2 separate regions of the Homo sapiens genome follow, and region 2 is linked to region 1. A link means that fine-mapping ties the variant in region 1 to the expression of a gene that starts in the linked region. Tissue or cell type: whole blood. Region 1 holds a variant in brackets; the other region holds the start of a gene. All regions are shown on one strand. Distances are from middle to middle.

Region 1 (2,757 bases):
CAATTCCAGCTATTTTTTTCTCATTATTCAGAAAGAGTGTCATTTTGGAGAGTTCCTGCTGTTTTTATCACTGCTGTTTGTGTGTGTTGGGGGCAGATCTGAGAGCACCTCGAGGGCAGAGAGGGTATCACTGCTGTTTGAAATGCACTGCCTAGCTGGGCTGCCGGCTGTTCTCTGCGGGTGAAAGTGCGGTTGAATCTGCAGCAGACTAAGAACAGACCTCGGTTTCGGAAGTGAGTCTCATTCTACTCCACTCAAGGTGGTTCTTGTGGCATGGAAGGACATTGATATGTCTTTATTGTCTCAAACTCCCGAAACAGAAAACATTTTCAGGAGAGAAACGAGACAATTTTGGCCAAACTGTATGTAGCAAGTGCTTGGTAAACGTGTGGATGTCTGAGTGCAGAGAGCAGACCATGGTCTTCCAGAGCGTGGCCGACCTGCCTGGGCATCACATCAAGCATGAAAAACCTGCTTTGGCTACCTGCTCTTACCTCAAAGTCTATTTTTCAGAGTTGAAGACGAGCAATTTTTCTTTCCAGAGGTTCCAGTCCATGGCTTCTGGAGCCAGAGAGAGGTTAACTCCAGCGTTTTCGTCTCTGCGTGTAGGGAGAGTAGGTAAGTCTCTTGTTAAAACAGGTTCTCCCACACTCCAAGCCCTTGGTCTGTGTTGTGCCTGGTCCCTATGACAGCAGGGTCAGGGTGGCCTAAGCCTTGGCATTAGGGGACCTTTACAGTGACCAAAAATGCACGTGGAAACTACATTTTCAACAAACAGTCCATGCACTGGTGAAGAACGGTGATTGCTGCTAAGTGGGGGTGACATCAAGAAGTGGGAACCGGCCGGGCGCGGTGGCTCACGCCTGTGATCCCAGCACTTTGGGAGGCCGAGGTGGGTGGATCACGAGGTCAGGAGATCGACACCTTCCTGGCTAACACAGTGAAACCCCGTCTCTACTAAAAATACAAAAAAATTAGCCTGGCGCGGTGGCGGGCGCCTCTAGTCCCAGCTGCTCGGGAGGCTGAGGCAGGAGAATGGCGTGAATCCGGGAGGCGGAGCTTGCGGTGAGCCGAGATCCTGCCACAGCACTCCAGCCCGGGCGACAGAGTGAGACTTCGTCTCAGAAAAAAAAAAAAAAAAAAAAAAGAAGTGGGAACCCAGAAACTCATCTCCTGCCTGGAGCCTCACTTTCTGACCTTGTGAATCTCAGTGAGCCAACGTCTTCCGGCCTCAGTTTTCATACCTGTAGAAGGTGGTCAGATTGTGGGGGTGGGGGCGACCTTTCCAGCTGTAGATCCGTGCCTTGAGTAAACCAAATATGCAGGGACAAAGTTTACTTTGTGCTCCATTTCCACGGCCTTCACTTTTTGGTTTGAAAAACAAAATGCAACTAAAACCATTTCCAGATATAGACAAAAGAGCAAATGATTAGTGTCCCTTGACATAAACGGTTTAATAAACCAAAGTGGCCTCAATTTAGTTTCTGCACATACACGGCACCATAATGCTAGCTTGAATGTGTACTGAAGTGAACAAATATCAGTGTGTGAGCCTCTCGCTGGAAGACACGCTTCACTGCAGGAGGCATAAATAACTGGCGCTTTTTTTTCTGAAACACTTAGACATAGTCAAGACCACTTGACTATGGTTAGGTGTACCTT[A/T]AAAATATTCTTTCTTTCAATTCTGGTACCTAGCAGAAGCCCCAAAAGACCTATCAGGGTCTTGTAACAATGGTCCTTTTGGAAGCACTGACTATGGTTAGGTGTACCTTAAAAATAGTCTTTCAATTCTGGCACCTAGCAGAAGCCCCAAAAGACCTGTCAGGGCCTTGTAACAATGGTCCTTTTGGAAGCACTGGAAGTTGGATTGTTCTTTGGAATTCTGCTGAAGGTTTGGCCTAATATGGCCCAAGATTTGATGAGTACTTTTTTAAGGTGACCTGATCACTTACAGGAGGCATGATGGACCAGAATGTCTCCCCACCCTCTCATCATTCTGCAAGAAATAAAATGTGTGGCAGAGAAAACGATTTGGTGAAAACAAAAACAAAGATATAAAAAAGTAAACTGTTTAAGACTTTGAGAACAATATCCTTTGAATTTCAAATAACCATGTCCATATCTGAGAAGTATCCCTGAATTATCCAGGGCGGGGGCATCTCCAGGGAGATTATCCAGGGAGTCCTGAGGGCCACCTATGACGCCGAGTCATTAGTGAGTGGCAGAAACGCAGCTCCTAGGAGCAGCTGTAGAGCAAAGAGCTGTCCTGCAGGTAGTGGTCTCTGATGTTCCCTCAGCGCAGGCAGGGGATGAATGCTGCCCAGACCATCGCTGATGGGGCTGGCCCAGATCTACCTGTAGGTCAGCGTCCTCTGGGTAGCTTTAAAAAGTGGAGATGCTGAGGTTCTAGCCCAGACCTGGTGGGTCAGAGTCTGTAGCAGACAGGAACCTGCATTTGACTTACACAGATTCTTCAACGCTGCTGACGCACAGGCTGGGACCCACTGTGTCCAAGCCACAAAGCTCTAAAACTCCACAACAAGCTTCATGTGATGAGGTACCAAGTATTAGAAGCAGGACGTACCATCAAGCAAGCTCTTGTTATCAGTGAAAAGCTAAACATTGAATTTAGGGTCTGCCTGACTCCCAGGAAGGCATCCAGACCATTTGTGAGGTCACAGCCATGTTTTGTAAGTATTAGGTACTCAAAATATTTGCTAACTGGACAAATGGATGATTTTTACAGACTTCTAATAC
Region 2 (2,603 bases), 330 kb after region 1:
GACACCTGGAAGAAACATAAGGTGTTCTTTCCTTCGCCACCAAATACACAGGTAAGTGTGTCTATAGATAGCAAAGGTGTTTTCATCCCAAAGAAAAGTTAAGACTTAGGATGTAAAAAAATACAGAAAACAAAACATAGCCTAGGCGAACCAGCTACAGATCACATGCAGCAGGTGACAGGAAGCCTTGTGGACACCTCACACCCACAGGGGCGAGCTTCATCACAGGTCAACTCCAAGCCCACCTGAGCTCCTCAGAACCTCCACCTGGCAGGCCATAAACCAGAAGGTGGCAGACAGCATCACTGTCATGCCGGTAATAAAGGAGAAGCAGCCTCCCTGAACCCAAGAAAACCACCCCTCTCTCCAAGCAGGAAGAGAAGGCCCCTTCACACCAAGGACACAAAGAAACTGAAGCAGCCAGACCCAAAATAAAAATTAAATTTAAAAAGCAGCATGGGAAGACAGATGACAAATCTGTGCTGGGATCGCCTGGAATCTCGGTCTATATGGGGGTCTCACACTCAAAAGTAAAAATAAAATTTAAAAGGGGGATGACAGAGATGAGAGCCCAATTAGGTCTGTGCTGGGTTCACTTGGGGTCTCGGTCTACTTAGGGTCTCAGACTCAAAAATAAAATTTTAAAAATGAAAGGGGGAGGTGACAGTTCAATGTGTGCACGTGATGACCACTTGGGATCCAGTTCACTTGCTGGGAGGACAGGGGACAGGTACCTCTGTGCCCGGCCTCCAGGTTCTCCGGGAGCGCAGGCGCCCAGCGAGAATCTGGGCTAAGTTTAACTCGAGGGCGACGGGAGCAGTGCCCGAGGGCCAGGCTGCGGCTTTCTGGAAACAAAGCCCCGGGGGTCCAAGCCCAGATCCAGGGAAGGGGGTCGGACGCCCACCCATCCCCCTCCCCAGCCTCCCAGCCACCGACCCCTGCACAGAGGAGCGCCCTCCCGGCAGGTGCCCCTAACCCGGCGCCCCGACCCCCGCGCCCGGCGCGCGCCTCACCCAGCAGCGCCCGCAGGTGCTTCAGGCGGGTCAGCACGTCCTTCTTCGGGTCCAGCACCTTCTGGGTGGACTTCTTCACATCCCCGTGGCTCCTTCGGGAGAACATCCCGCGGCAGGAAGCCCGGGCCCCGCCGGCGGGGCAGTAGGCGCCTGCGCCACGCGAATCAAAGCATAGGGTCGAGGCCGGCGCGTGTCGCGCGGGCCACTCGCCGCCCCCAGCCCCGCTGCTGCCGCCGCCGCCGCCGCCGCCGCCGCCTCAGCTGTGTCTCCAGGAAGGAGGGGCGGGCCGGTCACGGCGAGGGGCGGGGCAGGAAGGCGGTGTCGACGGGGAACCGAAGGCCCCGCCCCGCGGGAGGTGCCGGCCGGCCCCTTGGGCGCTACGCACGCGCACACAGGCCGAACTCTCCTGGCGGGACACTAGCCCGTCCGCGCCAAAACCTAGCGGGGACGCGCTCAGAGGGCCGAGAAGGCGCCTCGAATCACAAAGGAGCTTCTCTCACGCACACGTTGTACTACAAGTCCCGAGATGCACCGCGAGACAGTCCTCCAATCAGGCTGGCGGTCTTCGGCACGATGGGAGTCAGTGGGCCGGCATTGGGCACGTCGCCCCGCCCTGCCGCGGGCCGCAAGTGCTCCTGGGAAATGAAGTTCTCCAGCAGGCGACGCGCTGCGACCTCTTTTCCAGGGTCGCAGAAGCGCAGGGCGGCCTCTGTCCGTCCCCTGCCCCGGCAGCCTAGATCGCCCGTGGTTTCACTCTCCCTCCTGCGCGCCCACCCCATTTTCCTCTAGTGCAACGTGAACCACACACGCCCAAAAATCTCAGTAAGAAAAGTGTCAAGGCTTTTCAAATGCAAACTATTTTTAGGTTTAGCTTCTGGATTCACACAAGGGAGCGAGTCGAAGCCCCTCTGACCGTGCCGAAATCGCAGCTCTAATTTCACACTAAAATGAGTTGCTTTGGCACTAGGGAAGAGCGTGCCCCGGTGAGGAGTTCAGCCGGCCCCTAGGTTCCTGGAACCCAACCTCACTTGGGGTATGGAGGTCGCTCGCTCAGAGGGCTCCTTGGGATCTTGCCTCTTTGTAGGAAGGGTGCGTTCTCTGTTGTGCAAGCCACATGGCGATCCAGTAGCAGAACCAGAAATAGAACCTGAGGGATCTGACTCAGGCCTGTATACTTTTTAAAGCCAGGCGCTTATTCCCTGGGGCAAGACTTTGAGCTGAAAGATGGTCAGGAGATTTCTTACACTGTAGGATTGTATAGTGGCATCCGAATCCTGCAAGTTTTGACATCCTTTCAGCTTTTTCAGCAAGTACTTAAGGTAGAATCACGTGGTTTCCATCCAAATTGGGACAACACAACTGTCTTTTTCTCCTCTAGCTGAACTGTAACTTGAGGGAAGAGACAAGGATTTACACGCCTTTGTATCCCCATCCCTCAGCACAGTATTTGGCCCATAGGGTCACTCAATAAAAGTTTATTAAATGAAATACAATAAAAAGCTAAAGTAGTCCTACATATTTCAACCAGGCAGGCGAAAAGGAAAAAATAAATAAATAAACTCACAGTTTTAGAGCGTCTCTCTATTTTTA

The links. PIP is the estimated chance that this variant, and not a neighbour inherited with it, causes the effect.
Region 2: RALGAPA2 starts here. The variant in region 1 is fine-mapped to the expression of RALGAPA2 in whole blood (TOPMed, PIP above 0.99).

The regions. Positions count from the first base shown.
Region 1 is chr20:20,386,229-20,388,985 of GRCh38, forward strand. No RefSeq gene overlaps it. Among named protein-coding and RNA genes, the nearest start is that of INSM1, 20 kb to the left of the region's middle. The variant A/T (reference allele first, on the strand shown) is at 1,663.
Region 2 is chr20:20,711,362-20,713,964 of GRCh38, forward strand. It overlaps RALGAPA2 (Ral GTPase activating protein catalytic subunit alpha 2), which reads right to left and starts at 1,283. Exons shown (of 40, transcript NM_020343.4): 1 at 1,014-1,283. The coding sequence starts at 1,119. RefSeq lists a silencer at 1,174-1,433 and enhancers at 1,425-1,719, 1,544-1,743.